3 linked regions of the Homo sapiens genome follow. The protein of the gene in region 3 purifies or fractionates together with the protein of the main gene of each other region. This does not show direct contact. Each region holds a gene or a part of one and is shown on either strand. Other genes may lie near its edges.

Region 1 (3,658 bases), on a different chromosome or scaffold from region 3:
ACACTGATTAAAAAAATGAAACAAGATCTAACTATATGAAGAGATAGACCATGTTCATGGATTGGAAAAATCAAAATCATTAAGGTGTCAATTTGATCCATAAATTCGGCACAATCTGAACCAAACACCCAGTCAGTGCTTCCGCCGAGGCTGACAAGCTGATTCTAGAATATACATGGGAGAGCAAAGGGATTAAAAAGCCAAAATCATCTGGAAAAGAACAGAGGTGGAGGACTCATGTTACCCAATTTCAAGACTTACTAAAAAGCTAATCAAGACCACATCAAGACAGCGCAGTATTGATTAAGGAAGAGCCGCAGAACTCAATGGAATGGAAGAGACGGCCCAGACACAGCCCCCCTGCCCCCGACCCGACACACAGAGTGAACAAATTCTGACAAAGGTTCAAAGGCAACTACACAGACAAAGAGCAGCCTTGGGCCGGGCGTGGTGGCTCACACCTGTCATCCCAGCACTTTGGGAGGCTGAGGCAGGAGGATCGCTTGAGCCCAGGAATTCCAGAGCAGCCTGGGCAACATAGTGAGACTCAGTCTCTACAAAATAAATAAAAAAACAAAGAAGAGTCTCTGTAACAATCATGTTGGAACAGATGGATGTCCACATGCAAAAAGATGGACCTGAACACACTTCACACCTTACACAAAAATTAACCAAAAAGGATCATAGACCTAAATGTAAAACATAAAAGCATAAGACTTCCAGATGGAAATATAGAAGAAAATCTATGTGACTTGGGTTTGGCAACAAGTTTTTAGATACAACACCAAAAGCATAATCTATGAAATTAGAAACTGTAAATTGAACTTTATCAAACTGAAAAACTTTTGATCTGCAAAAGCTACTTTTAACAGAATGAAAACACAAGCCGCAGATTGGAAGAAAATACTGGCAAATCACACATCTGATAAAGGATTTGTATCTAGAATATTTAAAGAACTTTTAAAATTCAATAATTAGAAAACAAACAACCCAATGTTAAAGGTGGGAAGAAAAAACCAGGCCACAAGGTCTGAACAGACATAGGAAGGTGTACGGATGGCAAATAACACGTGAAAAGATGCTCAACATCCTTCATCACTGCGGAAATGCCCATGAAAACCACAGCGTGCTGTCACCACACACACGTCACATGGCCGAAGTGCTTGAAAACGGACAGTGCCCAGGCCGGGCGCGGTGGCTCATGCCTGTAATCCCAGCGCTTTGGGAGGCCGAGGTGGGCAGATCACCTGAGGTCAGGAGTTCAAGACCAGCCTGGCCAATGTGGTGAAACCCCGTCTCTACTAAAAATACAAAAATTAGCTGGGCATAGTGGTGCACACCTGGAATCCCAGCTACTCGCAAGGCTGAGGCAGGAGAATTGCTTGAACCCAGGAGGCGGAGGTTGGAGTGAGCCGACACAGCGCCACTGCACTCCAGCCTCGGCGACAGAGTAAGACTGTCTCAAAAAAAAAACCAAAAAAACAAAACAAAAAAAACACGAACATGGACAGTGCCCAATGCTGCAGAAGGTTCGGGACAGCAGGAGTGCCCTCGCTGTGCCGGGGATGCTGTGGCCTACCACTGTGGATGGCAGACGGTGGCATCTGACCCAGATAATGAAGGGTTACCTTACAAATCAGCTACTGCACCTCTCAGGCCTTCAACCTGAAAGTGTGCTCGCACAGAAGCCTCATGCAGATGCTCATAGCAGCTCTGTTCATAGCCACTAAAAACTAGAAACAAGGAAGACATCCTTCACGGTGGAAGTGGATAAATAACCGGAGGTGCATTTGTGCAACAGAAAAATAATCAGAGATAAGAATGCAGCTGTTGGTTCAGGCAATAACATGGATGAATCTTAAGTGCATTTTGCTAAGCAAAAGAATCTAGACCCAACAGGCTATATACTGCGTGATTTCATTCGTATGTCACACTGGAAAAGGCAAAACCAGAGGGACGGGAGACAGACCCGGGCGTGCCAGGGGCTGGTGCAGGGGAAGTGGTCACTCCCATGCACGGGGGACTTGGGGCTGGAGCTGGGGTGATGGAGGCAAAGCCCACAGCACTGAGCATTACACGAGATGAACTTCAATGTGCACAAACTATTGGGGGAAGACCCGACCAGGAGGTTGGGGGATGCAGATAGAATACAGGCTCCACACGCACGGATGTGAAACAGAAACACACTGGCCAGAGGGCAGGAGCCGCCTAAGCAACTCCGGAAAATGTTCTGAGTGGAGACCGCAAGGCCAGAAGGAGCTGTACACAAACGCTGCACTCCAGGGCTTTCCCCCCCGGGCCTGGGTGGACAATTCTCGCACGTGCACCAGGGCTGAGCAGATGCTAGAGGAGTCAGGGGAGCCAGGTTCCCACTAGCAGAGAGGGAGGATTCAGATGGGCCAGCAGGGAAGACTGGAATACACCGTGTGCCAGGACGGGAGGATGGAATACACCATGTTCCAGGACGGAAGGCTGGAATACACCGTGTGCCAGGTGAGAGTCAGAGTCATCGGCATGGACCAGGTTGACCTTCGTATACTTACAGATGGATAGGTGGATACGACAGAGAAGCAATCAAATGTGTGAAATGAGATAGTGACACACAGAGCCTAGCTCTACCCAGGAAGAGGGCCAGCAGCTGTGACACCCCGGGAGCAACGGCCCTCCCAGTGCCCAGACTGAAGTTTCTATGCTCCCCTAAAAAGAACCAGGGCTCCTTGGAAACAACTCATTCTAGGGCTGGGGCAGAGAAACAGAAGCTGGGCCGGAAGCATCCCTGCGGGGAAGGAGGGGAAACCCACCAGTGGTCAAAGCTGGAGGAGCTGAGCAGCAAACTCACAGTGACAGCACTGGATCATAACCCAGACAAAGACTCACAGTGACAACACTGGATCACAACCCAGACACAGACTCACGGTGACAGCACGGGATCACGACCCAGACACAGACTCACGGTGACAGCACGGGATCACGACCCAGACACAGACTCACGGTGACAGCACGGGATCACGACCCAGACACAGACTCACGGTGACAGCACGGGATCACGACCCAGACACAGACTCACGGTGACAACACTGGATCACAACCCAGACACCATCTCATGGTGACAACACGGGATCACGACCCAGACACAGACTCACGGTGACAGCACGGGATCACGACCCAGACACAGACTCACGGTGACAACACGGGATCACGACCCAGACAGACTCACGGTGACAGCACGGGATCACGACCCAGACACAGACTCACGGTGACAGCACGGGATCACGACCCAGACACAGACTCACGGTGACAGCACGGGATCACGACCCAGACAGACTCACGGTGACAGCACGGGATCACGACCCAGACACAGACTCACGGTGACAGCACGGGATCACGACCCAGACACAGACTCACGGTGACAGCACGGGATCACGACCCAGACACAGACTCACGGTGACAACACGGGATCACGACCCAGACAGACTCACGGTGACAGCACGGGATCACGACCCAGACACAGACTCACGGTGACAGCACGGGATCACGACCCAGACACAGACTCACGGTGACAGCACGGGATCACGACCCAGACAGACTCACGGTGACAGCACGGGATCACGACCCAGACACAGACTCACGGTGACAGCACGGGATCACGACCCAGACA
Region 2 (2,337 bases), on a different chromosome or scaffold from region 3:
TCAAGTGATTTGCCCACCTCGGCCTCCCAAAGTGCTGGGATTACAGGCATGAGCTACCATGCCAGGCCTCCTTGCAGGGTTTTCTATGCCCTTGATATCTGTCTCCCTGTCAACCTGGGACCTTGCTGTAAGTCTTGATAGGACAGGGAGAAGAGGGAGGCCCTACCGAGGCTCGAGGCTTCAGTGAAGGGTGACAGCAGTGGGAGTGTGGTACAGCCTCTGGAAGGACACAGTGTTCTCCCCGCCCCTTGTCTGGGAGCCAGGACTGTACCCTCCGAAGCCAGACATCACTGCCAACATATCCCCCTTGCTGGTGCCCTGGCATCTCAGCACATGACACACACCCACACCTGCAGGCTGTGGTTCCGGCTTGGCCTGCTCCCCGTCCGGCTGCTGCCGCTGCCTCTCTCCAGACCTCGCTTAAGGACAGTCCCAAACTCAGCTGGGGCAGGTGTTGGCCTGAAAGTCCTCCCCCAGCCTCTGCTGGCCAGCTTGGTGCTCACAGCTGCTGGGTAAGCTCTTGCCTAAGGAGCTGTGGGAAGCAGGGCTGATGCCCCAGCAACCTCTCCTCCCACTGTCTTTGAAGAAAGTAGCTTTAGACCGGCTAAAAGCTTTAATCCAGAGCCTGCCCTACTCTGATAGTACCAGAGTGGAGGGCAGAATACCAAATGTCCAGGAACCAAAGGCAGGGCTGTGGGGACCTGAAGAGCAGCACAGTGGGGCCCGTGCTGCTGTGGGGGAAACTGAGGCTGGGAGCCTCAGCAGAGACCGGTGTCAAGAGTCTCTGGGAACTGCATAGGCCTGAGGAACATGCATTTTCAAGTTGTCCATTGATGGTTTCGTACCTGAATTTCTCACCTTTTGTGAACATCTTGGGAGGGTGGGGGTTTTGCAGGGGTGTTAAAAGCAAGGCTTGGAGCCCCTTTCCTCCAGCTGGTGGCTCCTTCTCAGGGCCTGGCCTCATTCAGGCCACTTTGTAGAGAAATGCCCTGACCTCGCAGGAAGGATTTCCCCACCCCCAAGTGGAAGGAAGAGGACAGTGTGGGCACCAGAGGGCCCTGGAAACATCTTAGGGGAAGGAAAGGAAAAGGATAAATTTGGAGTGGGGGGTCTCTAAACAGATTGCCTGGATTCCGTTCTTTCCTGGGGTTCTACAGCTGCCTAAGCCCTCACCTTGGGGGAGGATCAAAGGGAATAAAGAGAACTCTTGGCTGAGTCTTTGTGCTTCTGTTCTGTCCTGAAGGACACGTGAGGAGCCAGAAACATCTGGCAGCCTCTGGTCCTTAGTTCAGATACAACATCCATGAAGCTGCCAGGTGTGAGGAGAGTTCCAGTGGGCATCACCTTCCTGCACAAACCTAGTCCTGATGGCTGCGAAGAGAAGCCGAGGGGACAAGGAACAGAAGCCACCAAGGGCTGTGGACTGTTGCTTGTGGGCACAGGGCAATGCGGACAGGCCACTGGCTGTGGGCCTGTAGGTCTCTGCACAGTTGCTGAGGCTGGTGCTGACTGCCTGCAGGGTCCTCTCAAGGCCTTACATACGGACACTGATCAAGGCCAGTTTGCCACAGCAGCTGCCCCTGCCAGCCATGCTCAGGCCCTGCAGCTGGCTGTCCAGACACTGATTTGCTGACAGTGGAATGTGAACTCTCTCAAGTCTACCCTGGCCTTCAAGCATGACATCCTTGCCTTGACCGCTGTCCGGAACTGTCCAGTTTCTGCAGCACTGTGCATGGGTTTTGGTGGCTGGGACAGCCACGTGGAGGATTCCCTCAGTGGCCTCCTTAGTGCCATTTGGGCTAGCCAGGGAAGGCTGGAAGGCGCTGCTGGATAAGGCTGGGCTCTGGGGTGATGTTCCCCGAGTTGGTGGGATCTAGGGGTTGGGTCCTGGCCAGCCTGTCTAGTTGGCTTGCCCTGGCCGCACCTGCTCAGCCAGCTGGGCCTGGCAGTCCAGTAGGTCATCCCGGAGGCGGGCAATGTCCTGCGTGTGCTGGGCCAGCGTACGATTCAGCTGGTCCACATGGCTCCACAGGCCCTCTCTGGGCCTCAGTGGCTCAGTGGGCAAGCTGTCCAGGCCCGCGGCCAGCAGGCCCAGCCTCCTGCACGCACCCTCCACTTGTGCCACCCGCTGGTCAAAGTGTCCCACTGTGTGCTGAAGTTTCTGGGCTGTGTCCTGGCAGCGGCTCAGCCCACTGGCCACCTTGGCCACACCAGCCTTGAGTTGCTCCAGCTCCCCACGCAGGTTCAGGACCTGCCTGTGGCCAGCCTGAAGCCTGGAGCCTTGGCTGCTGACCTGCTCCTGGATGGCCTGGACTTCGGCTTCCACCTTGCGTTCCC
Region 3 (3,161 bases):
GAAAATCTTTAAAAGCATTTAAAATGTTGCTGTGGACACCTGCCTATGTAAAGATTAAAACAAATATAAAATCTAGAATTTTTTAAGATAAAATAAGGTAACTACCTCAAGATAGAACTGGCCCTGTTCTTAATAGAGAGACCGAGAGAGAGAGAGAGAGAGACAGACAGACAGACAGAAATAAGTGTCTATGATTTGAATGTGTTTCCCAAAGATCATATGTTGGAAACTTAACATGCAATACAACAGTGATGAGAAGTGGGACTTTGAAGAACTGATTAGTTCACAAGGGCTCTGCTCTCACAAATTAATTAATGCTATTATCATAGGAGTGGGCTTACTGTTGCAAGGGTGAGTTTGTTTTGACTGAGTTTGACCCTCTCTTGTGTATTCTTTTTTGCTCTTCCACCATGGGATGATGAAACAAGAAGGCCCTAGCTTGACAGATGTTGGCCTCTCAATCTTGGACTTACAGCCTCCACAACTGTTAACCAAATAAATTTCTGTTCATTATAAATTACTTAGTCTGTGGTATTCCGCTATAGCAGCACAAAACAAACTAAGGCACTAGTTTAGTAATTTACATCCAACTGAACATGAGGATAGGGCAAATTATTGCTACTCCAAACCCTCATTAATATGAAAAATGCATATATAGTTGTCACACTTTTTTTAAAAATAATTACATTGAAGTAATAGGTCATGCCTGTAATCCCAGCACTTTGGGAGGCCAAGGCGAGTGGATCACTTGAGGTCAGGAGTTTGAGACCAACCTGGCCAACATGGTGAAAACCTGTCTCTACTAAAAATACAAAAATTAGCTGGGCATCGTGATGCTTGCCGGTAATCCCACCTACTTTGGGATGCTAAGGTATGAGCATCACTAGAACCCGGGAGGCAGAGGTTGCAGGGACCTGAGATTGTGCCACTGCACTCCAGCTCAGCAACAGTGTGAGAATCTGTCTAATAATAATAATAATAATAATAATAATAATAATAATAATATTCACATGGAAAATTAAGACCAAGTAATTCTTTGGGGCCCAAATGAAGAGAATACTTGCCTTTATTTTCTTTTTACTTTAGCCAGTGACAGTGATTACAGAATTTCAGAAAAAAAAAACTGAGGGTAAAATTTGATGTACTGTGAGGAACTAAAAGTTTCTTTCTCTAGTTGTGGAGGATGTTCCATGGCTTTCTTTACATGGTTTTTTTTTTTTTAATTAGCATGTTGTACATAAATTGAATCATTAATGGACAAGAGACACTGAATTAAACATACAGTTATTATCTTTAAATGTGAAGACACAATATGTCACTGTAAACATCAAGACATGGGAGTTTTGGAGGAGGAAATAAATTGATAGACACATATTGTTTTTCTCCACAAATGAGAAACCAAAGGTCCAAGAGAATACACAATGTGCTCAAGGTCATATGCTTAGAAGTTGTCAGAACTGAGATTTAAGTTGGGAGTGAGAAATGTTTGAGAAGAAAAAAATCTCTTCAAGAGTAGGGGGCTATTTAAGAGCAAACATATTTAAGCTTAACAAAATATTATCGTTTTGTAATATATTAAGCAAAATATTACCACTTGGACATGGCTGTTTTCATTCATTCTGCGAATTTGCTCCTGCATAAAAGGAAACACATTCTAAATTACTTAGACATCTTCTGGTACAACACATTTATCTTACATTGCACCAGAAGTATACATAACATCATTCATGAAATTTAGAATAGACTGTATTCTATGCCACAGTTAGCAAAAAATGTCAAAACACTTTTTATTTTCTAATGTCAGAAAAAAATTTTAGCTAAAGGCTAAGCTCACTATAGTTTGGAAAAATAAACAATTAGTAAGGTTCATACTCTGAGGAAAAATAATAACCTACCATTTCTCTAGGACTACATATTTTTCTATTTATGGCTATTTATTAATTATTTAAATTTTGTCTTTTGTGACTTTTAAGTAAAATATTATCAGATAGTGTTGGTAGAACACTCTCTCAGAATATATTTATGTTAAAAGAGAATCATGCATTATAAAAACATAACACATGAAGGAAATACTAAAATATTTTAGATTTAATAAATAATCTCACCTGGGCATGGGCAGCTTGCTAGGGAGGAGAAAACATTCTGTTTTAGTATTTTCATTTTATTTACTCATTAATAAGAAACATTTGCTGGGTACCTTCATTTGTTCAGGGACAATGTTAAATACTGGAGATACCACTGTAAAATACTACAAAATCTCTCAGGAGGACAAGTAGGTTCTAACAGTTGTGGAGGTTACAGACTAGCCATATCATATCTATGGTACTAAAATATATTATTCAGGTAATTTTCTAGATCAATAATGATGAATTCTATTGGGGTACTAATGTGTTTAAATTTATTTGGATACTATTTTAAACACAAGTTACCTGAAAATGGAAACTAGAGTAACAATTAGGGTCCATATTAAATTCATTACTGATTTTCATCTTCCTCTATTGATAACGATTAAAAATGCTAGCATGCAATTTTGCTGAACTAAAACCAAGCATTTCCCAAAGCCTTCATTACGTCAAATTTGTTTGTAGTTACTGAAAGGTTTTTATTGTCCTCCCAAAAGAAAGACTTTTATGTTACTCAAAAGGGTCAAAACCAGTGTTAAGCAGATTATGTGAGTTTTGACAGAAGCAAATCTGATGTTTAGCATTCCTGTTTCCTTTCCCAGAATCTATCCTGTTTCCTTAAATGGAAAGTTTATTTGACATATCTGTGATTTCACAGGTAAGCATATTTGTGAAATTCTCAACCAGGACATAATGTATCATCAGGGAGGTTAAAAGTGGATTTGCAGTAGAATGTAGTCACTTTCTCCCTGGTTAGTAAGTATGGATAATATATAGAACTTTAGTCCAGGAATAAAGAGAATGAGCATTGCCCGCAAATATGCCGGCAATCATACAAATAACTTGCCAATTATTGGTCAAGGCTAGAATAAATAATTTCTTAAGAAAAATAAAAATATATTTAGAAATGGCCCCAATTTAAAATTTAATATGTTTTAATTCTATAGTAGAATATGATTTTGTATTATAATGAATAAAATATTACCAGCTGAAGTTGGTTGTATTCGTTCAGTCTACAAAACTGTTCCTATTTAAAAA

What was found.
Region 1: the proteins of CSN1S1 (region 3) and LMF1 purify together in Homo sapiens (affinity purification with mass spectrometry; one large-scale study listed by BioGRID and IntAct). This does not show direct contact.
Region 2: the proteins of CSN1S1 (region 3) and EMILIN3 purify together in Homo sapiens (affinity purification with mass spectrometry; 2 studies listed by BioGRID and IntAct, with this or other methods). This does not show direct contact.

The regions. Positions count from the first base shown.
Region 1 is NC_000016.10:957,422-961,079, forward strand, and holds part of LMF1 (lipase maturation factor 1), read right to left. Parts: intron 1-3,658. UniProt on the Homo sapiens protein: Involved in the maturation of specific proteins in the endoplasmic reticulum. Required for maturation and transport of active lipoprotein lipase (LPL) through the secretory pathway. Each LMF1 molecule chaperones 50 or more molecules of LPL.
Region 2 is NC_000020.11:41,359,368-41,361,704, forward strand, and holds the end of EMILIN3 (EMILIN-3 precursor), read right to left. Parts: coding exon 1,901-2,337; 3' UTR 595-1,900; downstream 1-594.
Region 3 is NC_000004.12:69,941,008-69,944,168, reverse strand, and holds part of CSN1S1 (alpha-S1-casein isoform 1 precursor), read right to left. Parts: intron 3,151-3,161; coding exon 3,109-3,150; intron 2,124-3,108; coding exon 2,106-2,123; intron 1,634-2,105; coding exon 1,592-1,633; intron 1-1,591. UniProt on the Homo sapiens protein: Important role in the capacity of milk to transport calcium phosphate. Casoxin D acts as opioid antagonist and has vasorelaxing activity mediated by bradykinin B1 receptors.